Regions from separate parts of the Homo sapiens genome. Here all the other regions are linked to region 1. Evidence: fine-mapped expression QTL. A gene starts in region 1. Each other region holds a variant in brackets. All regions are shown on one strand. Distances are between the middles of the regions.

Region 1 (5,107 bases):
GCAAGTACATCACACCCAGCTAATTTTTGTATTTTTTGTAGAGATGGAGTCTCCCTTTGTTGCCCAGGCTGGTCGCAAACTCCTGGGCTCAAGAGATCCTCCTGCCTTGGCCTCCCAAAGTGCTGGGATTACAGGTGTGAGCCACCACACCTGGCTAAGAAATTACTTCATTATCACTGAGTTTATACGTCAGAAGTGTACACTCTTAAAACATAAATGATTAACAAGCTAATCCTTCCTTCCTTACATTTGGCACCATTTCAGTGACATTAAACAGGACACTGACATTCTTGCTTTAGACTAAAAATGGCTCCCTCCATCCAATTTTAACCTTCTTCCAATACATCTTCCACTCATTCAGTGATCTAAAATACAAATTTGAGCACGTCAACCCATTGCTTAAAATTCTTCAACGGATTCCCATTGCCTACAGGATAAATGCATACTCCTTAGCTAGCCGTAAGAGGCTCTTTATGATTTGGTTCCTATTTTTCTGGCCTCTTGTTCTGCCCCTAAGCCTCTTGCCCCTCACTCCTCTCCTTTGATCGCCATGTACAAAACTTGTTCCCACCCACTCAAACATACAACTCCATCATTCTGTGCTTCAGCTACACCAAACTACTTTCAGCTCTTCAAATTTGCCAAACTTTTCCTCTGGGAACAGTAGGGCATGCAATCCTCTCTACTTGAAACACCATCCCCTTCACTATCATTCTGCTCATCAGTTTAGGTATCATCTACTGGGCCTGAATTCCAATTCTACCATGGACTAAATTCTCTTCCTTCCCCTTCCCTTCTCTCCTTCTTCAACTACCCAGGCTTTCTTTGTATATCTTGCATCTCTCCTCACTTTAGCTTCTTCACCACTACTCAACCCTGGGGATGGTAAATGTGGAAGGCTTTCATAAATTTCCATAGCAAAAGGAAGAAAATAGCTAACTTAAGGCCTCTAAATCATATAATATATATGCAGAAATAAATATAAAGGAAACTACCATTCCATTTGATAGTCTCTTTTAAGAAGGCTACATATCTATATCCCTTCATTCTTTCAAAATATTCTAAATCAAGTAAATGCATGTTTAAATCTCCTTTTTATTTTACCTGGGTCACCCTCAGCAAAGTCTGCACCAAAATAGTGTTCTGAGGGATTCCAAGCTTCACTATGGCGTGAAGACTGAACAGTAGGTACTTATACTGCATGATCTTGGCTTCTCTCATCATATGTTCACAGAGCTGATTAAATGCAGGGTGGCTAAACATCAGTCGTTTTTCAAAGCGCTTCTGGTCATCAGACAGTCTTTTGGCAATTGTCCACATTGCTGTGAAATAGTTGCTACTAGGAAATGTGGGCGCTTTTGAAAATGCATCTAACACATCACTCAGGGAATTACATTCCTCAGACAGTTTTCTACTGCTGATACGGTTTGGTTTTGTTTCCTTGGTAAGAACATCTTCATTGGAGACTTCATGATTAAGGTTTACTTTCTTCAATTCATCATCAGATTTATCAACAGGGACAAGAGACTGCTTTGAGTCAAAAAACAGTCTTTTAGCATAAAGTAGTCTTTCAATTCTAAGGGCTGTTAGAGTGCTTATGCCCTTTGTTTGAAAGCCAACATCTGATTTAAAAATGAATGCATCCTGAAAGAGATATCTAATGATATCAGTTGATTGCATTCTGTTATGAAAGTTATTTAAAATGTTCCAGTTTGAATGAACTATTTTTGGTTTGCAAAGTCCCAAACAACATAGCCTCATAGTTCTGCTTGTTGAAACTAATGTACTGAATTGTCTAAGGTTCCAGAAAAAGGAGCCCGCTTTGTTATTCATTTTGCTCTCCACTGAAACACTTCCAAATGGCTTCAAAGTTGTCAACATGAAACCAACGTCACTTCTACTAGTGAAAAAGAACACGTGCTGTCGTTTTCCTGTAGGGGAAGAAGTAATGAAAAGAATAAAAATTAAAACAAAACTTTTACTTAAAGAAATGAAATGCATTTAACAGAAGAGAAAATGGGGAACCTATGGAGCCATTAAACATTTACATAAAACAGTAAAAGTTTTTTTTACCAATGTGGGCTCCCTCCAATCTACCACAATGTGTCCAGTTTCAAAGAAGCCAGGTCACTTTGGAAGTAGTCATTGTATTAATGAGATTTTTCTGGTGCAAAAGCGTTCCATAAAGCTTTCTCTGTAGGAGAGACTTTTGTTGGCATTGTTATGGAAATGTCCTCGGTGAAAATTAGGGGATTAGCATTGATAGATCATTTTCTTTTCTCTTCTCTGTTTTTTTTTTTTTTTTTTTTTTTTTTGAGACAAAGTCTTGCTATGTCCCCCAGGCTAGAGTGCAGTGGCGCGATCTTGGCTCACTGCAACCTCCACCTCCCAGGTTCAAGCAATTCTCCTGTCTCAGCCTCCCAAGTAGCTGGGATTACAGGCGTATGCCACCACGCCCGGCTAATTTTTGTATTTTTTGTAAAGACGGAGTTTCACCATGTTGGCCAGGCTGGTCCTGAACTCCTGACCTCAGGTAATCCACCCGCCTCGGCCTCCCAAGGCGTGAGTCACCGCGCCCGGCTGATAGATCATTTTCAACATGACGATTTAGCAACGGCCGAACCCAGACCATCAAGAATAGGGACCTGGGCAGGTAGAACGGCTCAGTGGAAGAAGCAGAAAACGAAAGCGATGTCTGCACGTGGCCTGCGCTTAAGAGGAAGATCTTATACAACCAGCCAGCCTCACCAGACCCCAGAACCAACTTCAAGAGCCTGTCCTTCCGCAGCTGGGCCGCCCAGCATTAACCCACCTCCTTTAAACTTACTTCCAGGACAACTCGTGAGACTCTTCTCCTCGAAGTAAAAAGTCTAGGATGTGATACGGGCTGCCGCTAAGCCCAAGCTCGTCCTCCACTCACCTTAGAGCACAAGACCGTGACTACGTACAGGAGCAGCCATGACAGCTTCCCCGAGAAGCTGCGCTTCTCACGAGATCTTACGGATTCCCTCAAAGGTCAAAAAGCATATGTTCGCGGCTGTAGCTGAAGGACTTACTTGAAGAAAGTTTACCAAGGAGAATGACTAATTTCCCTGCATACAGGAGTGGGGCTCGGGGATACCACAGAGCTTATAAGGGCGATGTTTGATCGTGTATCGCAACGTAACCCATTCAGGTCCTAACTTTAAACACCTAACCTCTGCTGGGCGCCAGACTTTGTAGTGCGCCTGCGCCTTGCCCTTGGCTGCGTGGTTGCCAGGAAACCGCGAAGCCGCGGTCCCTGCCTCTGAGTCTCTCTCGACCATGGCCAAATTCGTCATCGCGGGTGAGTGATCCCCGCGTCCGCCCGCAGATTGCTCAAAACGCCGACAACAGCTCACCTCCCATGGCCGCTCGGCTTGGCAGCCTCTATACGGACCGCTCCATGCTTTGCTATAGATTTATTCAAAGTTTTTTACTGGACCGTGACGGTGCGCCAAGCATTGTGGGACACTGGGGATGCAATGGAGGGAAACATATCCCTGCCTTAGAGGAGCTTTCAGTCTCATGGGGCACAGAACATGTACTTTTGATACGGTGTGATTAACGCGATGAAGGAGACCTGCACAGGCCTCTGGGAGCGTAGACTCCTAATCTGGGTTTGGGGGATGAGGGAGAGGTGGACACAAGGAACTGGCTGGGGAAGGTATTACAGGAGCTGAGTTGTGAAGGTGTGAGCTGAGGAGGCTATTCCAAATAAAAGCAGAGAGGCAGGAAGCTTCCTGGCCTAACAGAAGATCTGGATATGTGGGGCGTGACAGGACCTGGGGCTACAACAGGAGCAGGAGCCAGGTCCTTGCATTTCATGTAGGTCAAGCAAAGGTGTTTGAACTGTATCCTGAAAGCAATGAGGAATTATAGAAAAATTTTAAGCAGGAGAGTAGTCTTAATGAGTTTGCATTTTAGGAAGCCTGTCTTGGCAGCAACGGAGAGAATGATTGAAAGTGCTGGTTGACAGCAAGGACTCAACTGAGAAGGCTTTTATTACAACAATCCATGGTACCTACCTCCTCTCCTCGTAAAGTTTCTTAAAAGAGTAGACTGCTCTTCCATCTCCAGTTCTGCCTTCCAATCAGTCTTGGAAGAAGGCTTCTACTTCTGCTTCCTGACAGAAACTGCTGTCACCAAAGTCACCACTGACTTTTATAGAAGCTGTTTAGTCTTTGACTTATTTGATCTCTTTGATGCATTGAACACAATTGACATCTACCATCCACAGGAGATTTTTTTTTTTTTTTGAGACAGGCTCTCACTTTGTCACCCAGGCTGGATTGCAGTGGTGCAATCGTGGCTCACAGCAGCTTTGACCTCCTGGGCTCAAGCGATCCTCCCACCTCAGCCTCCCAAGTAGCTGGGACTACAGGCATACACCAGCATGCCCAGCTAATTTTTGTATTTTTGTAGAGATGGGGTTTTGTCATGTTGCCCACGCTGGTCTTGAACTCCTACGCTCAAGTGATTTGCCCACCTTGACCTCCCAAAGTGCCAAGATTACAGGCATGCACCACCACACCTGGCCCAGAAGAATATTTTTGAACACTGACTAACCACATGGTGGGAAGTCAGTGGAAAACACACAGAGAATGTTGCATGTATGACACTGACAGGGCAGGGTTCTATAGGAACGATAGCAGGGACCTTACTTAATCAGGTAAGGGTTTCCCAGAGGGAGAGATTTTAAGCAGATACCTGAAAGATGATAATGAATTACCTAACAGAGAAGAGGTAGAAAGGAGGGGAGCAATTTAGGCATGGGTAACTGGGAGTGGGGTTAGAGCAAGGAGAACTAGTTTGGTGACAATTGAGAATATAAAATAAGTATAAAATTGAAATAAGTTTATTAGGACTGAAGCAAATAGTACAAGGAAGAGAATTTCATAAGGTGAGGCTAGAGTTAGATAATGTAGATTCTTTTGAGCCACATTCAGTAGTTTAGACTTTATCCAGAGTACATGAAAGGTTTTTAGAAGGGGAGGAGGGCCTAATCAAATCTGAATTTTATCTGAATGTTACGGCTATAGTGTGGGACAAAAAGACTGGATACCAAGAAACCAGTTAGGAGACTAGT
Region 2 (5,107 bases), 23 kb after region 1:
GTTGTAGGTAACATATTTATTAATTTCCTAGGACTACCATAACAAATTACCACAAAGTGGATGGCTTAAAAACAACAGAAATTTACTTGTTCACAGCTCAGGAGACTAGAAGACCTGATGTGAGGTATCAGCAGGGCCACACTCTCTCTGAAGGCTTGAGAAAGAATTCCTTCTTGCTTTTTCTAGCTTTGGGTTGCACTGCTTGCATTCCTGGCTTGTTGCTGCATCACTCCAACCTGTGCTTCCCTCTTCACATGTCCATCTTTCCTCTGTGTGTGTCTGTGTTTCTAAGTCTCTCTTTCTCTCTAAGGATACCAGTCATTGCATTCAAGACCTGCCCTAAACCAGTCTGAACCCATCTTAAATTGATTATATCCACCAAGACTCCATTTCCCATAAGATCACATTCATAGGTACCAGGCGTTAGGACTTCAACATATATATATATATTTTATTTATTTATTTATTTATTTATTTAGACAGAGTCTTGCTCTGTTGCCCAGACTGAAGTGCAGTGGTGCCATCTCGGCTCACCACAAGCCCCGCCTCCCAGGTACGAGCGATTCTCCTGTCTCAGCCTCCTGATTAGCTGGAACTACAGGTGCACACCACCATGCCTGGCTAATTTTTGTATTTTTAGTAGAGACGAGGTTTCACTATGTTGGCCGGGCTGGTCTCAAACTGCTGACCTCGTGATCCACCCACCTCAGCCTCCCAAAGTGATGAGATTACAGGCATGAGCCACCATGCCTGGCCAACTTCAGCATATCTTTTTGGAAACACAATTCAACTCACAACACCAGATTTATTTTTAGATAACTTTATTAAAAGCCAACAAATTTCAAGAAGCTTATTTTTCTTATTGGTATTTTCTCCACTCATAAGAAATAGGGGAGGGCTGACATCTTTTCTTTGCCTTAAAGATGATCTCATCTTAGGTATGGATATATACATGTAGAAATAAATCAATTTATTTATGCAAAGGGCTTTAGTCAAGTGTCTTTTGGAGCCCAATATTCCTTCCTTCTGCTAATGTGTGTGCAGTACCAACTATAAGCCAGTGCTAGGAGCTGGAAATACAGAGGTGAATGAGATAGACCTGATCTTGCCCTCTGGGAACCTGCAGTCCATCAAGAGGCTGGCCACACATTATATAGATGACTGCAACTGTGGTGCGTGGGAGGAGTAAATGTTGGCTGCTGTGCTGTCAGAGCTCATGCCTGCGGATAGAAGGGAAGAATCTGAAGCAGGAAAGTACATATCAACTTGTTTGGAAAAACTGTGGAAAAGCTCATGTGGCCAAAGCCAGAAGAGATGGAGCTGAGAGATACAGCCATGAGGAGTAGATGTGAGAGCTACAGAAGATTTCTAGATGGAGAGAACCTGGTCAGTTGTGGGATTAGTTTGAAAAACATCCTGGAATAAGGCAAGGCTGTTTGCAGAAAGACTGGTATTGAGGGGGAGTGCATACAGCCAAGACCAGAGGCAGTAGAAATTTGAGAGATATTTAGGATGTGGAAATATCAAGAATTGCTGATGAATCTGATTGGCTTTGGTGAATCCCAGGGTTCTTCTGGCTGAACAACTGGGCAGATTTACTATTGATAAGGGGAAAATGGTAAAAGAATGAGAGAGAGAGAGAAAATATGAGAATGTGGGAGGGGTGTGTGTGTGCATGCACGCCTGTGGATGGAAGAGGAAGAAGCATGGTGCCAGATTAGAAAAAGCATGAGTTTCATTTCTTACATTTTGATTCTGAAATACCTGTGTGATATCTAAAATGGAAATGTCACATGGAGAACTGCATACTTCCTGGAGCTCAGAAAGATCTGGACTACAGTTGCCAAATGGGGAGTTGTTGCCTCATAAATAGAAATGAAGCTATCAGTATGGTGGAGATTGTCTAGAGAGAAGGTAAGAGAAAAAAGCCTGGAGGAACTTAGCCTGTCATGGTTAAGTAGAACAGGAGCAACTGACAGAGGACCATGAGAAAGGGGTGGTCAGAGAGTCAGGATAAGTCCCTGGAATCTGATGATGTAAAAGACCTGAAGGCAGAGGGTGTTTCAAGAACAAGGACTGTTCTACACTGTCAGATGCTACTGGTGTGTCAGATAAAATGATACCTGAAAAATACCCAATGGATGTATGACAAAGGTCATTTGTGACTTTAATGAGAGCAATTTTGTGCAATGGAGAGGGCAGAAATGAGACCAGAGTAGAAAGCTTCCTGAGCTGCAACATTAAACGCCAAGTCCCTACTTAGTAGGCCCAAGTCAATAAATTCAGCCTGATCCAACTCTGTGTTCCTTCAACTATTATCCCATACCCTTAATATCCATTCCCATACCTGTTCTCCAGATTTCTGTTTATATAAATTAGAGACATCGGCTGGGCGTGGTGGCTCACACCTGTAATCCCAGCACTTTGGGAGGCCGAGGTGGGCAGATCACAAAGTCAGGAGATCGAGACCATCCTGGCTAACATGGTGAAACCC[T/C]GTCTCTACTAAAAATACAAAAACAAAATTAGCCAGGCATGGTGGCAGGCACCTGTAGTCCCAGCTACTTGGGAGGCTGAGGCAGGAGAATGACGTGAACCCAGGAGGTGGAGCTTGAGCTGAGATTGCACCACTGCACTCCAGCCTGGATGACAGAATGAGACTCTGTCTCAAAAAAAAAAAAAAAAAAAAAAATAGAGACATCAAGCAGCTCTTTTTGAGTGTAGCACACTTCTTCATGGGTCATACTCTCAACCTCACCTCTAGAGGCCCACCAAGACTTTAGTCTAGTTATAGGTCTAGAAGCAAACAAGGGTGTTAGGGGTGGCTACTGAGGAGAATCAACATTTTCCCTGGCAACTGCCTCAGGGGAGGCCGTCACTCTTGCCTCAGGCAGCACAGGGTTTATCTCCTCAGACAAAGGTGGAAAGGCTGATGACAGCATGGGTCAGGGAGGGGATGTTGCCACTACTGGGTATGGGGAAGCTGTTCCATCTGGCAAAAAAGGTTCATCAGAGTTTACAAACTCAGTGTCCCCAGCTTCATCAGGGTTCTCCCACACGTCTCCATTCCAAGTTGCAGCATCCCATTCTTTTCCAATTAATGCCCTCACTTTAACAGGAGACACCTGGCAAGGCTGTGCATACACTTTTCGTTGCAGTTCAACCACTCACATAATAAGAGCTTGTGTCTGTTTTTCCACAATTTCAGCTCTTTCTCTACAGGAGATAAGACTCACTCAGGGCAATCTTTGCAGATTTGAGGCTCAGTATCTGCCAGGAGACAGAATCTCTGAGTTCATCATTTTCTTTCATCACTTTGTCCACTGAACTTAGGAGCAGCTAACCAGCTTCATTATGTTCCTTTGTTCACCACATATGGTCAAAGGTATTATGTATAGAGTCACTAAACTCCCTGCCTCTCATGGGCAGTGAATCAGGAGTGTCAAATTCATTTATTTTGCATAACTCATTAAACAGTTCATGCCAAGGACTATCAGTGTTCTCCATACTATTAAAAGTAGAGTCCTTAGGTCCTTAGCATTTGGAGGTCGAATCATACTAAGCAGCCAACTCCAGAAACCCGAAAACCAACAAAAGAACTCCATCCTTAATATTTTGTTTCTCTAGAACCACTCCTGGTACCAAAATCTGTATAGTCAAGGTTCCGTAGAGGGACAGAACTAATAGGATACTTATGTATAAATAAAGGGGAATTTATTGAGTATTAAGTTACACAATCACAGGGTCCCACAATGGGCTGTCTGCAAGCTTGAGGAGCAAGGAGAGCCAGTCTGAGTCTCAAAATTGAAAAACTTGGAGTCCAATGTTTGAGGGCAGGAAGCATCCAGCATGGGAGAAAAATGTAGGCTAGGAGGCTAGGCAATTCTCACCTTTTCACATTTTTCTTCCTGCTTTATATTTGCTGGCAGCTGATTAGATTGTGCCCACCAGATTAAGGGTGGGTCTGTCTTCCCCAGCCCACTGACTCAAATGTTAATTTCCTTTGGCAACACCCTCACAGACACACCCAGGATCAATACTTTGCATCCTTCAATCCAATCAAGTTGGCACTCGGTATTAACCATCACAATTAGAAAAAGATAAGTATTATTTCATGTATTTTTTTGTTTCATTAATATGTACACAAATGTACACATTGGACTATAATGTAAAATGTGTCTTTTATTGTGGGTCATAGTCACTGAAGTTTGAAAAACATTGACTCAGAACATCTCATGACCTAGTTAGGTTGTTGGTTATATTCTAAATCCAGCATGTTTTATTTAATTTTGATTTCAGGACATAAAGATCTGGTCCCTGATGAAGAAAAAAATCTAGCTATGTCAGATGGTAAGTCAGTGGGGTTATAAACAATGTCTATATTGCTAATAGTCGTGACTCATATTGTCCAGTTGTTAGAGAATAATGTTATGGTCTAGCGACCAAAGCAAGTTTTAAATAACTGCTTCTTTTCATATGCTTCACAAACACTTTGAAATGGGCATAAAAATGTCAACTTTTTTTTAAAAAGCACTAAAACTGCTTCCTTGTCATATTCACCTCAAACTCTCCCAAAATACTCTAACTTCAGCTCCAGTCCCTTGTATCTCTTGCTTCTCACCTTTCCCTTTTCTTCTCAATTCTCTATTATGAAGCCCAAAATAACCAATAGGGCAAGATAGCATCTTCCTCAGAACACAGGTGAGAGGAAAAGACCGAGAGAACCAAGTTAGAATTCTCCTTAACAGGGAAAATCTGGGATTTTTTGTCTCATTATGTGTATATATATCTCATCATATATATAATTTATAATGTATTACATAAATACACACACATATGCTGTTGACCCTTGAACAGCATGGGTTTGAACTGTGCAGGTCCACTTATGCAGATTTTCTTCCACCTCTGCCATCCCTAAGACAGCAAGACCAATGCCTCCTCTTCCTCCTGCTCCTCCCCAGCCTAGTCAACATAAAGAAAATGAGGATAAAGAACCTTATGATGATCCATTTCCACTTAATGAATAGTAAATATATTTTCTCTTCCTTATGATTTTCTTAATAACATTTTCTTTTCTCTAGCTCACTTTATTGTTAGAATGCAGTATGTG
Region 3 (5,107 bases), 53 kb after region 1:
GAGGAATCTCAATGAGGAAGGCAAAGCCCAAGGAGGCTGGGAAATCCTGGACAGGCACCCAGTTTCTCCATCCATCCAAACCTAGGACCCAGGGCTTGACAGTTCCTCCCCCAAAAAGTAGGATTGGGACCCAGAAGGACCTAATAGCTCCTGCCTGTTCCTACCTGCCTGTTCCCTGATTCCCACCTGTTTCTACCTCATTCCTGACCTCCCATTCCAGCCACAGTGAGCAGCTCAGCATCTTATCCATCCTCCATGCCTTTGCCCAGTCTGTGTTCTCTGCCTGGAATGCTGCTTAGTATCTTAGACATCTGTTCCTTCAACATGCACTAAGTAGCTACATTAGCACTACTAATGAAACGCTGAATAAGACGAGAAAAAAAAAAAAAGAAATTTAGGCTGAGTTAAGTTTGGGAGGGAACTATCCCTGGGAGACAAACAGAAAGCTCTAAGGCTGCTATCTTGAACAACTAACTGGTCAAGGCCCTAACTGAAGTCCATTGTGACCACCACTTGTGATGCTCTCTGCCTTTGGCTTTGGATTCCACTTGAAGACATGGGACTCCATGTCAAGACTGGACACAGAAGTCCTTGTCACACCTGTGGCTGGTCTCCCTGGCTACACCATGCAGCCATTCATTCCCCCACTCAGGGGTCTGCTAGGAAGGACAGCCCTGGAAACACCTCCTAAACCCAATCTTAGTCAGACATCTCCCAACTTCTTGTCCAGGCATCAGCCTCTCTCCGCCTCCAGGAAAATTCCAGATTAATTCTTTCATGGGCCTGTCCATCTTTTCATACAAAGGCCTGAGTGGAGGTGACTTCAAGAGCCGTCTTTACGCAGTGGCTCACGCCTGTAATCCCAGCACTTTGGGAGGCCGAGGCGGGCAGACCATGAGGTCAGGAGATCGAGACCATCCTGGCTAACACGGTGAAACCCTGTCTCTACTAAAAATACAAAAAATTAGCCGGGCGTGGTGGTGTGCGCCTGTAATCCCAGCTACTCGGGAGGCTGAGGCAGGAGATTGGCATGAACCCGGGAGGTGGAGCAGTGAGCCGAGATTGCGCCACTGCACTCCAGCCTGGGTGACAGAGCGAGACTCCGTCTCAAAACAAAAAAGAAAAGAAAGAAAAAAGAGTGGCCCTTAAACACAGAGACACTGTTAGATCTCCCAGAGGAGTGAAAATAGCTTAGACTTACAAGATGAACACAGAAACATTGCCTTTCCATTCTTTAAATTCTCCCCTTGCTGCAAGAACGAGACAAAAATGAATGTCACCACAAATGACCTTGCCACATATGTTTGAATCAAAGAAGTACACCAAGCAGTTCCTTGTTTCATTTTTGCTCAGGGCCTGTTCCAAGGCTGGAGACTCGGCTGTGTTTCTAGTCACAAAACTCCCCAGCACACCCTGCTAACTCCTCATTGCCTGAGTTTTATGTTAATCGGCTGACATTACATTTGAAAGTAGTTTCATTTTCCTCAAGACTTCTTCCTCTGGGCACCATAAATACAAGTAAGTCTTGGCTTCAGAGCTTGCTTGTGTGTGAAATCCTTGCCTCAGAATGAGCGTTTCTGGGTGTAAACTCTAATTGGAATTTGTTATCACCGGAAACACTAGAGATGCACCACTGCTTGGCAGTTCTTTCCAAAGTTTGTGACTGATTTCCTCTTTCACCCTTCACTATAACTGTGCAAATCTTCACTATTCCTCAACCCCACCATGTCCTCCTAACTCTAAATGTGTGAACATGCCCTCAACTTTACAAAGAAAACAGAAGCTCTCAGACATGGCCATCCCCCCAGCGCATCATCTCCTTTTATGCTTCCTTTCAGGGAATGAGAGATGGCTTCTTACCAAAGCTAATTCCTTCACCTGTGCATTTTCCTCCCTCTCTCTACCACAGCGATGGGAGCAGTTAGCAATACTTCAGCGATTGTGGCAGAAAACTTACCTCAAAAAGGCTGTGTTACCTTATAAAATTAATAACCCAATCAAGAGATCTACTGTACAGCATGGTGACTATAGTTAATAACAATGTATTATATTCT[T/G]GAAAATTGCTAAGAGAATAGATTTTAAATATTCTTACCACAAAAAATAAATATGTGGCATAATGTATATGTTAATTAGCTTGATGTAGCCATTCCACGAGATACACATATTTTGAAACATGCTGTGCATGATAAATAATACAATATTTATTTGTCAATTAAAACAAATGAAAATAAATTAAATAACCAAAGGAAGGACTAGCTTTCCTGGGCTGGGACATTGTCACCAGGAAGCGGTTTCTCTCCATCTCTAAGTTCATCTCTGCTCACCCTTGTGTGTTGATTTCATTCGCAAGCTACACAGCCTGACAAGAGGGTGATTTCTGCTCCAATCTACAATTCCAAATTCAAGTCGAGAAAAAAAATTCTGCTTCCCTGATAACTTGAACCAAGAGTCCTTGAACCCAGATTCATTGGAACATTACTTGCCTGACTTTGGTATGTACCCACCTCTGGGGAAGGCGACGGTGCTCTCACTGATGGGCTGGGCCTGGGCCACATGCCCCCATGGAAGTGGGAGAGTTGCAGTTGACACTATTGGAATTTCATGGACTCAGATTAGGGGAGGTGGTTCACCTGGAGAAAGAAAAATGGATGCTGGGTGGCTAAGGGAACATGTGCCCTCTGAGAGGGACTTTGCTACATCATATACTACCTGGATCCCCTACTTCCTGAGTCCTCAACCCCACTCTGTCTCTCCTGGCTCCTCCTCCCTGACCCATACATTCTGGAATCTCTCCTGCCTTTGAAAACCACTTTCGATTTTATGTGTTGTTCTAGCTGTGGCTCTCTTGTCTTCCCTTCACGTTATAAGATCTTGAAAAAGTTGTCTGGTTGTATGTTTTCTCCTCACCTTACACTCAGTGCTCCATCCTCTGCAGTTTGATTTTGACCCCCATGACTCCACTGAAACTGCTGTCACAAAGACCTTCAATAATCAAACTAGTCATAAAAAGCAGAAGCAATAAATTCCCTTTATACCAGTAGTTTTCAAACTTTCGTTTGCATCAGATTTACCCCCGGGGCCTGCTAAGACTCAGGTTATTCCTTAGATTCTCACCCCTAGATTCCGACGTTGGCGACTTCTTAGACTTTTGTTAGAAATTGTTTTTCTCCCAAGTTCCCAGGCGATGTTGCTGCTGTGGTTGGTTCAGGAACCATACTTTAAGGTCTACTGGTTTATACCAACAATAAGCAGTTAGAACAGGCCATTTTAACTGCCTAAAATAAACTAAGCTATTAATGTGTATGATCTTATATAACTTTATTGAATAACATTAAAGATAATATGACTAAATGGGGAGATCTACTCTATAGTTATTTTTTCTAGATATGAAGACTGATCATTTCAGTCTTCAGCAACAGAAAGCTCCGTTGTAACGTTGTTATAGTCTCTTAAATTAAATAAAAATCAAATTTGGAGCATCAATGGAAAAAATTTAAAATTGTGGGTCCTTAAGAAAGGTAAGAGAATTGAACAATGAGAACACATGGACACAGGAAGGGGAACATCACACACTGGGGCCTGTTGTGGGGTGGGGGGAAGGGGGAGGGATAGGATTGGGAGATACACCTAATGTTAAATGACGAGTTAATGGGTGCAGCACACCCACATGGCACATGTATACATATGTAACTAACCTGCACATTGTGCACATGTACCCTAAAACTTAAAGTATAATAAAAAAAAGAAAAGTAAAAAAAACAAAAAACAACAACAAAAAAAAGAAAGGTAAGAGAAACAATTTAGGAAGTATATTGCCTACATTTTCTTATTTAAAATGTGCAAATACCCTTTGAGGAATGTGTTATAATTCCCATTTATCTGAAGAAGAAACTGAAGATCAAAAGTAACTACTTTTAAGGAAAAAGGAAGGAACAGAACTAAGTATAGCTGGCTCCAGAGCTCTCTCCTCTCCTCTACACTGTGAAATGGGCAAGTACACACTCAGTGCTCAGGAATGCTCGCTATTGTTGTACTGCTATTGGTGATGGTAACTCTCAAAAGAAGGTATATTAATAATTCTTTTTCTGATTATAAAAATAGCCTACACTTTTTATAGAAAATTTAGGTAATATTGAGCAGAGAGAAAATAACCGCGAACACTAATAATTCAAGCACTCAGAGATGTCCACTGTTAACAGTTTGGTGGTTGGTACTAGAAGTTAAGCTCCACAAGGGTGGCCATCTTTATCTATCTAGTTGAATGCTATATTTCAAGGGCCTAGAATCATGCCAGGGCCATATACTAAGGGCTCAATAAATATTGGCTAAATGCATGAGTAGATGGATAGCTTTGGAGTCTTTTTCATTTATGCATAAATGCATGTGTCCACATATAACTAGAATATATTTGCAAACTTGAATTTATATTCTACATGTAGTTTTTTTTATCCTGTTTGTTTCAAAGGCCATTGACTTTTTATATAAAAAGTGGACAGATTGATGGAGTATTCCGTCACTTTTTGGTGGACTGAGAAGGTGAACTAGGTTCACCTGTAGCCCTAGAATAATGTAAGTCTATTTTTATTTGTTTACAGAAAAAAAAAGAGCTCTAAACCTTAATTTCCTCACCTGCAAAATAAAGTAAGCTTACATGATCTCTAGGATTTCCTTCCATGATGTGGGATTTATATAATGAGAGAGACTTTATTCATAATATTTTACGTTTTCTTTACAGATGCTCTTAATAGTATTGAGAATTCCATTTATAGAACAGCCTTCAAATTACAATCAGTGCAAACTCTGTGCCAGTGTAAGTATAGGCTCTCCTGAAATATTTGAAATAATCTGAGCTTGATGTGCGATGTAAAATTCATAGAGAAAACAAACACTCCCCCCATGCAGCTGACTACTGGATTCTGGAAGTCTGGACTTGTGCATTTAGCCCATTCGTGACAGAGAAGATGGAGGATGGGAAAACATCACGTGCAGGCAAACCATGTGTAGTTTTGCTGATGAGCAATAGAAATAATTGTGCATGAGGATTTTTAATTTTTTAAATATTTTCTCCACTTGGCTTCTTCTAGAAAATGTTTTTGGTTTCCTTTTC
Region 4 (5,107 bases), 37 kb before region 1:
GACAGGGTTTCACGATGTTGTCCAGGCTGGTCTCGAACCCTTGGGCTCAAGCAATCTGCCCACCTCTCAAAGTGCTGGAATAACAGGCATCCTAGAGAATTTAAATGACAGAGGCAGTGGCTGGAACCCAGGTCTCCTGATTCTCAGCCCAGTGGCCCTCCTTCTCTCTCCCTTGCCTCTCTACTATTCAAAATACAAAAATGAAGAGAAAATGGGCCTTTCTTATTCATGCGGAAATTCATTCCAACTTGACAGAAAGGTACCCATGTAAAATGTATTGTTAACTTCATATCCTAGTATATAAATAAGAGAAAATCAATAAAGCATTTGTTTGAAAATGACTTGCTTTCTGTTTGGTTGGTACAAAGTTATATCATATATGATATATGGCTCTGGAATCAAATCTAAAAATTTAAATTACTTGCTCAAAGCCACATGGCTGATAAGTCTAAGTCTGAATTTTTTCATCTATAAAGTGGGCATTAATAATACTTACCCCAAAGTTGAAGTGTTTCATTTAATCAACCTTTGAGGAAAATGCTTAAAAGATAGTGGCTATTGTTGTATTTTATGTGGTATCTGTTGGTTTGGGCTTCAAATACTCTTCCCGGGAGACATGCCGTACACTTATTCCCATGATGCTGTCATTGTTCAAAATATTTGGATGCACTTTTCTTCTGGAACTGCCTTCTGAGTTAGTTCTTATCTGAAGAGAAAAATTAACTCTTCATGCCTATATTTAATCAAAAGGAATGTAACTTAGTTTTATCAACTTCATTCACCAAAGCTAGCTGGGAGGTACTTTTAACCATTTGTTTAAACCAAAGCCAGATACAAAAGATGAAGATTTGCCATGATTGAGAATTTGCCCACAAAATTTTGCTTCCTTAAGTGAAGGGGATACATATTTTACTTGCTGGACCGAGCTCAGAAACCTTGGGAAAGTCATAAGCCACGGAACCAAACCCTGTTCCAGAGCTGAGAAGGTGGAAAACGGGTGTGTGGATGACTCAAGGTCAGCCCTTGGGAAGCTGGAATTCTCTGGAACTTCTGAGAAAGAAAGACAGCCTCTCAGAAACAATTACATGGGAATTTTCACAAGCTGGGAAGATCCCTGTAGCTCTAACCAGGATTTGTTCTCATTCTGTGGGAGGAATGGAAGGAAAAAGAAGTCTTTGAGAGCCCTAAGCTCCTGAACTTGAATGCAAAGCAGGCTTTGGAAGTCAGAAGAGCACTGGGCCACTCCTATCTCGTCCTTGTTCAGGATAAATGTACCCCCTATACCATGCGTTTCCCCCAACACACACCACACACACACACACACACACACACACACACACACACACACACACACACACACCACTAAAGAATAGACTTCCTGCCTCTGTGCTCTACCAGAAACTTTCAGCATCTAGGGTTAGCATCTTGCCTTCCATTTGCACCTCAAACATTTCATTCTTCACGTTGTTATCATTATCACCCTATCATTACACTGCTGGTTAATCATGATTAAAACAATAAACAAATAATTTTTCCCTGGTGAGCATAAATAATTGCAGATGAATACATATTGTTCGGGCCCATGTAACATTATATGCTATTACAGACAGTATGAGAGGATGTTTTATTGTAAGAGATAATTTTTCCTAATTGTAATGTTTACTCCCTTCAGATTCTAACCTTCTGAAGGCCCAACAAAGTCACCTAGAGGGAGTTTGCAGCTCTTGCCTGCAGTTTAGGGAAAAGTGGCTTTTCTACTTGGTGATAACTCTAAAGTGAAAATGTGAAACCAAGTGGAAGAGGCCAGGGGGTGCTTTTTCTACCAGATGTTAAAAGAAAAAGAACACGCAGGATCTAAACTCTAGAGTGAGCCTCACTGCTGGGGGTGACAGAGCAAGAAGAAATCCAGGGGTTCATTCGATTAACTTGGAAGGCTCTTACTAGGGGACACTAGTTTATTGAACAGGCTGGGTCAGTAGCTCCAGCAGGCTGGAAACAGCTCCATCTTCTTCCCTCCCTTGCCCATCACACTGGCTCTGCCAGCTCTCCCTTCCCACCTCAGAGAGGCCATCTCCGGCATATGCCAGAGTATTTTTGGTTGCACATGGCTATTAGCAGAGC[C/T]TCATTTTAAGGTATTAAAAAGCTCATCACCTGATCTATTCTCAAAATATGCAGCTCTCACCCAATCTAAGATTCCTTCCTTTCTTCCAGCTCAGTAATGAGCAGCAGGGGGAGGAGGCTGTGGAATCTTCTTTTGCTGTTTGCCCCCCTTGCTCTGTTTTCTGCTCCTCCTGCCCCGCTCACTGTGCTGCCTCTGGCATCTCCAGGGCCAGGTGGGGAGGAGGGACTAGAGGTAAATGGGTCTATTCACTGGTGACCTTGCAGTCTGCGAGGATGCCCTTTGTGTGCTAGATGCTCAAGTGCTGGCTCCTCCTCACATGAGTGACTTTTGTGGGTTCTTAAGAGACACCCCTACTCCCACCTCTCTTTCCATGGCGTGTCTTTCTTACACCACAGCATTCCCTGACCTGACCCCCACAAGGCACTCTCAGGCTGACTGTGAAGACCCCATACAGCCTCTTTTTGCTGAGATTTCTGAGCTTTGGCAGGACGTCCTCTAGGACAGGTGCCTTTCAGGATGACTCAAGCCTGCTAGTTTCTTCAGCATTCGTTTAATCCACAGGAAATATTATGCATCCATGCCATCCCTTCTCCCCTGCAAAACTTGGAAGCCAAAAGCCTTCTTACAGCCACCTGTTTTTGCTCTGCCATCAGCAGCAGCTCCAGGCAGCCTTCTGCCTTTGGGCTTTTCCAGGCAAGAGTCAGGCTTCTATCTCCAGTCACCTTCCCACACCTCCTACTCTCACCTCGCACTCCCACCCCCGACCAATGTTTGAAGGGTCTACATCAAGCTCTCAAAGGAACTTGGAGTCCAGGCTTCTGGGTGTCACTTCATGAGTTGTGCCTCTACCCCACTGAGTGAACAAATCTAAGCCACCGAACATACCCTGTGGGATTGGGGTTATGCCCCCACCCTTCCTCTCCATACACTGGGCCCCATGCATGGCAGGTGGCTCTGTTAAAGATTACTGACCATTTTTCTCTTGAGACTATTGTAGCTTTTACAGCGCTAAAAATTTTAAGCATAACACCCTTCTCTACCATCATCTTAGGCAATTTACAGAGATAAATTTATGATTTTGCATCTATAGCACATGAAGTATGGATTTTTAAAGATTCATTAGAATATATAATTCTCACATAAAAACATTTATACTCATAAACAGTATTTCCATAAAGATGATCTCATTAGATATAAAGTTTATCTCTGGTGAATTAAAGTTAATCCTGAAAATCTTGTCAACCACACATAATATATGGTACCTAATGTATCTGATACATTCTGAAACAGATAAGTGGATGAAATATTTTTAAAGCACCACATCTAGTAAGGCAGCAGAGAATTAGAAACGGATTTTATTTCTTGTTCTTCAATATAGTAATTGGTGACCTTGAGAAATGCCATTTAACCTTTTCATGTCTCAATTTTCTCATCTATAAATAGATATAATCATCACAAAGACCCGCTGTGAGCAATAGATGAGATAATCTTGAGAGCTCTAAAGCTCTACATATAACAGAAAGGCATTATTGGGATTAGGGCAGAGGATCTGCAGCTCTGCTGTTGCCTTGAACAATTTCCATGATTCTGTGACTCACTTTTACTACCTGCAAAATAGACACCGGAAGGCGTCTCTCCAGTTTTCCTTAGAAGGCAGAGTCTGTATAAGAGAAAAAAGCTGATTTCAGGGTCCAGCAGATTTAATTAGCTGCACAACCATGGGCCAACTCTCGAGTGTTAGAGAGGATAATGATGACTACCTCACAGGGTTGTGAGAATCAAATGTCTTAAAGGAGAACAGTGCTTAGTAAATAGCTAACAGTGCTCAGCCTGTACAATTGTTAGAATCAATATTGGGTTTCCACTGAAAATTACCATGGGGTTACCTTGCCGTTTACTGCCTAGGTCCAGTCATTTCTGAATAAGATTAGTTGCTATGGTTACCTTCCCAAAACACCACAGTTGAAAACGTGTTGGAGATGGGAATCGATGGTAGGAGGCTTTAGCGGAGGACACAAAGCAACTTCAGCCACTGAGACATTTTAATACATGTAAACTCCTTCCCTTGGAAACCTAAGTCACATTTTGCCAAAATGGAAATGAACTCAGGAAGTGGACTTTCAGAAGTTCTGCATTTGGCCAGCCTCCTTCCCCCATCACCAGGCCCTCAAGGACAGGTGCGTTCTGGCCCTGAACCAGCTCCAGAGCATCTCAGTTTCTTACCCCAGGATCTGGCAGTTGGAAAGATGTTGGTTGCCAGGCAGAATTCATCAGATTCACTTCCCAGATGCTATCGCTTCTGATGCCGAAAGAAAAATAGGTTGCCCAGCAATTGAGGTTGGAAAGGACAGGTGTAGCTGAGAAATGCACAGTGTTGCACAGAAAACAATAATGGGTTATTTTTGTTAAAATTCATTAGCATGCATATTTGTATATTCCAGGGGTCCTCACATCCCGCAAACATACTTAGTCTCTGGAGGGGCTAGCACTAACATCCCCGGTTAAAGTGTCCCCCACAGGAGTGTTATAAATGGTATTTGATCTGTCAGAATCAGTCACAGCTCCAACAGCTCTCAGCAAATGAATACAAGTTGGTCTGACCCTGCTTCCTGTTTCCAACTAAAGCAAACCGAAGACCTGAAGAGGCCTCACAGGCAAGAGTATTTTGCACCCGCTCCTAGTGAAAAGACTCTTTTCTGCCTGGTCTTTTTTCCCAGACATCCCAAGGAGCTGTCCTGCTCTTATTTGAAATTCAAACCAGAAGGAAGTCACCTCCGCAAATGCCAAGTGTCCAGCCTCCACTTCCATGATGATTCAGCACCACCTAGGGGCCATTGTCATTCATTTCTTGCCAGGCTCATTTCTTGCCATATTCATTTATTGCCACAATAGAATTCCTTTTTAAGTATTGCAGCTGCACCCGCCACCGCCCCCTCGCCACTGCCATCCACATAAGAAAAGTACAGAAGCTTCTCTACACACATT
Region 5 (5,107 bases), 90 kb before region 1:
ATGCAAGCAAGGGTCTCCATGCATAACCAGAAGATCGCCTGCTCTGGGGCGTGGCCCCCCAGTCTATTTGAGGCCTCCTGGAGTTCACCCAAGTAGGGGCTAGAGGCTTCCTCCTCCCTGCTCTGTTTGCACGAAGTGGCTCCCCACAGCCTCTCCCACAGTTGTGCTTCTTCTCCCACAGTCCTTTGGCCCTGCTAAGGCTGCTTCCTTCCCCTCCCTTCCCTAAGTTCCATCCCCAACCCCCGACAACGTGATCCATCCTCTCTCCACACAGTCTGTTAAAGACTCTGAGCCCAAGGTGTATTAGTCTGTTTTCACACTGCTGATAAAGACATACCCGAGACTGAGTAATTTATGAAGAAAAATAATTTTAATGGACTCACAGTTCCATGTGGCTAGGGAGGTACCACAATCATGGCAGAAGGCAAAAGGCACATCTGACATGGCAGCAGGCAAGAGAGAATGAGGGCCAAGCAAAAAGAGAAACCCCTTATAAAACCATCAGATATTGTGAGACTTATTTACTACCATAAGAACAGTATGGGGGAAACTGCCCCCCATGATTCAATTATTTCTCACTGGGTCCCTCCCACAACACGTGGAAATTATGGGAGCAATTTGAGATGAAATTTGGGTGGGGACATAGCCAAAGCATATTACAAGGGTTAACATGGAAAAGGAAGGAGAGACCCTTATTGTGGTCAATGCTAAGGTTAGAAAATGTAAAATATAATCTGCAAATCTCTGAGAACTACAAAGATTGAATTTGTGCTAGCCAGTCTCCTGTAGCTTCTAATGCCAAGAGTGGTTGCTTCCCCAACTTCTGTTGTGTTCCTAGATGGAGATGGAAAAATAATGCATACATATATACACAGAGTTTCCCTATTTCCTTAACTTTGAGAGGATCCTAGTTCTCTCAAAGAGAGAAGAGCTGGTATACCCTTCCTACCACATTTACAAACATTGTTTCTAACTTAAATAAATGAGTTACATAATTAAGTGCTAAAATATTAGATTTTTTTAATTCACATGCACATTAGCAAGTAAAACCTAAAATAAAACAAAAGAAACCATGACCCAGAGCACCACTGCAGGAGATTTAGGGAAGGGCAGGAAGCATTTTTGTCCATCCCCAGGGATGAGCATTTTAGCTGCTGTGTCTTCTTCATTGGAAAAAAAGGAAATCTAGAGGTAGTTGCTGGGCAAAGGAAATGGGGAGAGGCACTTTGTTAACTCTAGATTTTTCTACATTGAAGCCTAGAGTCACCATTTCTTTTTCAATAAATTCTACTCCATCCTTCAAACTCTCTCACATTCTCTGTAAATCTTCCCCCTTTTTACACTAATCCATAATGATTTACTGCTCTCTGAACAACCATTACTGTGAAGTGGTTAAGATCAGAGGGCCTTGGGATCAGTCAGGTTTGAGTGTGAATTCTCATTCTGATATAAATTTATTGAGTGAACACTGGCAAGTTATTTAACTTCTCTGAGCCTCGGTCATAAAATCTAATATTTATAGGTCATTGACTTTATGTCAGGCACTGTTTTAAGCACTATACTTACATTATCTCATTTAATATAAACTCTATAAGGTAAGTTCCACGGTGATTATCCTTATTTTATAGACAAGGAAATGGAAACAGAGAGAGGGGCATCTGCGCTCAAGGGGTCACCTGGCTGGTAGCAGACGCTGGCACAATGACTCAATGTCTAGGAAGGAATATTCTCTCTCTGCAGTAGGGAATGCCAAGAGACACCGGGGACCAGGACCTTGCAGTCTGATTCCATAGCCTGGCACCAACCACTGCACTTCACTGCCTCCCCACACCTGTGTACTGAGGCTGTGGGTTATGGTTGGAATTCAAAAGAGCTAAGGATATAAAGTTCTTAGCATGGTATCTAGAATTTAGCAAGCACTGCATAAATGGAAATGATTTTTATTAAGAGTGACTATTTAGATTCTATTAGTACCCACTTATCACTTAGATGCTAACTTGTATTATTAACTCTATCTCTGTCCTATCTTCTTAGCATACTGTAGTATCCCTGAGAGAAGGAGCCAGGTCTCTTCTCTAATTCCCCATAACACAATACTGGAAACCATGTGCTGATGTATATGGATTACAGATAATTCTAGACTGAGGCAGTGTCTGTTGCTGTTTTTTCCCCCAGTTTAATCCAAAGAAATCAGCATTATGGCAGAGTATGTGTTTATACACATTCTTGTCTTGTGTCTTCATAATATGCACTGGCTTGAAAACACATATGAGTCATGGGCCCTGCCATAAACCAGAGATATCCAGAGAGGGAAAGAAATAAAATAAGAAGGAAGGAGGGAGAGAGGGAGGGAAGAAGTGAAGGAGAAAAAGAGAAAGGAAAAGAAATTCTGTCTCCTTTTCAAGAATTTGGAAGCATCCTTAAGACAAGTGGTGACATTCCTCTGTTTGATGACATTCTTCTATTTGTCCCAAACCCTAACTTCCAAGGGTGATTGCAAGTTGCATCAACCACCATGC[A/G]GGGAAAACTTTTATCCCTTGTAAAAATCAGGCAAAATCAAATATGTGACAGGTCATGAAATTCCCATCCTGCTCCAACAGAGTCAGTGTTGCTACCTTAGGAATCAGGAATGTAAGTCCTCTGCAAAGTTGTCAAGGAGGTTTCTATTTTTGGCCCTCAGTCTGTTGCAGCAGCAATGAGAAAAAGCAGGCCAGAAGAACACAAAAAATAGTTGAGGGCATCTGTAATATCTGTGAAAGGGACACGGGAGGCACTTGCATATGTCAGATGGAAGGGAAAATTGGAAACAAAAGGAAAATCTGGAGGCAGATGATTTAACATTCATTTATGCATTCATTCAACAAATATTTGCTGAGTGCCTACTTGATGCAAACCCTAGCACAGGGTGAGCTTATGGAGGGTATAAATATTAAAGAGGCCCAGCTCCTGCCTTTACCTTACAGTCAAGTGGGGGAGGTAGAGCATGCACATATTTTTTATTTAGTGGTGTCATGTAAACATTTGAGGTGGGAATCTGTGAGTTAAAAGGCTGTATTAGCCATGCTTCTGAGAGTGAAGACACAAACGAACCTGGCCCGCAGCATCATCTGCCAGCACGAGGCACCACCTTCCTGCTTTACCATAAACCAACAGCACCAGGTCCTGTGCCGCGGGCCCAGACTCAGGCAGCGCAGTTACGGGAGCCTCTCGCCTTCAGGGGTAGCAATGGCTCCATGATTTACACTGAAAAACCTGCATTCAGTGGCAGAGGCTTCCCTACTCCAAGATAGATGGCTTCAGAATTTCGGGGAAGTGGTGTTCTGTGGTGGTCAAGACAAAGGCTTTGGAAGCACAGTCATGGGTTTGCTTCCCAACCTTGCCTGTTGGTTCCTTGACAAATGAACCTCTGTTTCCTCCTCTGTAAAATGTCAGTTGAGATTCTCTGAAATAATATTGCAAAGTGCCCATTACAAAGGGCTCAAAAGAAAGATCTTAAAGTTGTCACAGTCATCTTGTGGTCAAAGAGCCCTGCACTACTATCCCAGGTCCTAGTCCTGCAGCTGACTCCGATCTTCTTTCTGTCTTGTGTGATGCTAGGTCAACTATTTCATTGTTCTATTATTCTCCTTTTTTAAACTGTTGTGGTAAAATAGACATAACATACATTTTACCATTTTACCATTTTTAAGTTCATTAAGTACATTTACATTGCTGTACAACCATCACTACCATCCATCTTCAGAACTTTTACATTTTCCAAACTGAAACTGTGCCCATTCATCAATTCCCCATTTTTCCCTCCCTCAGCCTGCGGCAACCACCATTCTACTTTCTGTCTCTATGAATTTGACTACTCTGGGTTCTCATTTAAGTGGATTCATGCAATATTTGTCTCTTTGTACCGGTCTTATTTCACTTGGATAATGTCTCCAAGGTTCATCCATGTTGTAACATGTATCATAATTTCATTACTTTTTAAAGCTGAATAATATTTCATTGTATGTATATATCATATTTTGTTTATCCATTCACCTGTGGGCATTTGGGTTATTTCCACCTTTTGGCTATTGTGAATAATGCTGTCAGAACATGGATGTAGAAATATCTGTTCAGCTCTTTCTCACTTAAAAAAAAAAGTTTTAAAAATATTAATACTGTAACTTCTTATCCGTCTGTGTGACAACATAAGAATTGATAAAGTAATTCCTTAAAGTATCTGTAGTCATAGTAGGAGTGTCAGGGAAGCTAATTAATTTTGGTCCTATAGTTTTTCCACAAATCTTTGTTACCAAAAAGTAAGCACCCTTATAACCAACATAAGTCTTATCCATACAGGTTGGCTGTGTTTAAAACTAAATTATTAAATGTACAAACATTAGAAAATATACTATTGTTGAACTTTTAAAAACCATTCTATGTTTCCTGTAAGGAAATAGGGCATATATAGAAACCTTATACTTTGATGTAACCATAGAGAACAGGGATTGGCTAATAATAGCCCATAGGCCAAAATCCAGCCCACCACTGCTATTTACAACGTGCAAACTAAGAAGGTATTTTACACATTTTCAATGGTTGAAAAAAATAATGAGAACAATACTTCACGAGATATGAAAATTGTACTAAATTCAAATTTCAGCACGTGCAAATAAAGCTTTTTTGGAACCCAGCCATGCCAATTCATTTTTATATTGTCTATGGCTGCTTTCAAGCTACAATGGCAGAGCTGAGTAGTTGTTACAGAGACCATATGGCCCACAAACCCTACGTATTTATGATCTGGCTCTTTATAAGAAAAAAAATGTGCAACTGCTGATATAAATCATTGATCTAATCTCACTTCATAATTTGCAGTGGAGAAAACTAGGGCCCACTTTTCTGAAGTGTCACGTCACACCAGAGATTAGGAATCTAAGAGTGGCCAAAAGCAATTCAGCTATCCTGAGTCCCCACCTTGCGTCCCTAAACCAGGTTCCAGTGTATTCCTGGGATACAGCATAGCAGCTTATCTTACAGCTATAGATCACAGACCGAAGCCACCATTTGTTCATGTTAATAATGAAGAAAGTCTGGTGCTGTTAATTTCCTCTGCTGGAAATAAAGAGAC

Which allele goes with the higher level. Positions count from the first base shown, and alleles are read on the strand shown. Sizes are in standard deviations (SD) of each study's normalised expression. Not every link is listed here.
For the expression in tibial nerve of the gene that starts at base 2,969 in region 1, T is the high allele of the variant in region 3 and G is the other (small effect, 0.19 SD a copy in GTEx).

The links.
Region 2: its variant is fine-mapped to the expression of FASTKD2 in whole blood (INTERVAL, PIP above 0.99).
Region 3: its variant is fine-mapped to the expression of FASTKD2 in tibial nerve (GTEx, PIP 0.97).
Region 4: its variant is fine-mapped to the expression of FASTKD2 in whole blood (TOPMed, PIP 0.95).
Region 5: its variant is fine-mapped to the expression of FASTKD2 in monocytes (TOPMed, PIP 0.96).

The regions. Positions count from the first base shown.
Region 1 is chr2:206,763,468-206,768,574 of GRCh38, reverse strand. It overlaps FASTKD2 (FAST kinase domains 2), which reads right to left and starts at 2,969. Exons shown (of 12, transcript NM_001136193.2): 1 at 2,828-2,969; 2 at 1,105-1,931. The coding sequence starts at 1,881. MDH1B (malate dehydrogenase 1B) reads left to right here and starts at 3,247. Exons shown (of 12, transcript NM_001039845.3): 1 at 3,247-3,325. The coding sequence starts at 3,304. RefSeq lists enhancers at 2,699-3,078, 3,329-3,468.
Region 2 is chr2:206,740,294-206,745,400 of GRCh38, reverse strand. MDH1B (malate dehydrogenase 1B) reads left to right here. Exons shown (of 12, transcript NM_001039845.3): 10 at 4,297-4,347. Among named protein-coding and RNA genes, the nearest start is that of MDH1B, 22 kb to the left of the region's middle. The variant T/C (reference allele first, on the strand shown) is at 2,495.
Region 3 is chr2:206,710,227-206,715,333 of GRCh38, reverse strand. DYTN (dystrotelin) reads left to right here. Exons shown (of 12, transcript NM_001093730.1): 2 at 4,736-4,810. Among named protein-coding and RNA genes, the nearest start is that of DYTN, 5.6 kb to the left of the region's middle. The variant T/G (reference allele first, on the strand shown) is at 2,055.
Region 4 is chr2:206,800,536-206,805,642 of GRCh38, reverse strand. No RefSeq gene overlaps it. Among named protein-coding and RNA genes, the nearest start is that of MIR3130-1, 20 kb to the right of the region's middle. The variant C/T (reference allele first, on the strand shown) is at 2,122.
Region 5 is chr2:206,853,821-206,858,927 of GRCh38, reverse strand. No RefSeq gene overlaps it. Among named protein-coding and RNA genes, the nearest start is that of MIR3130-1, 73 kb to the right of the region's middle. The variant A/G (reference allele first, on the strand shown) is at 2,520.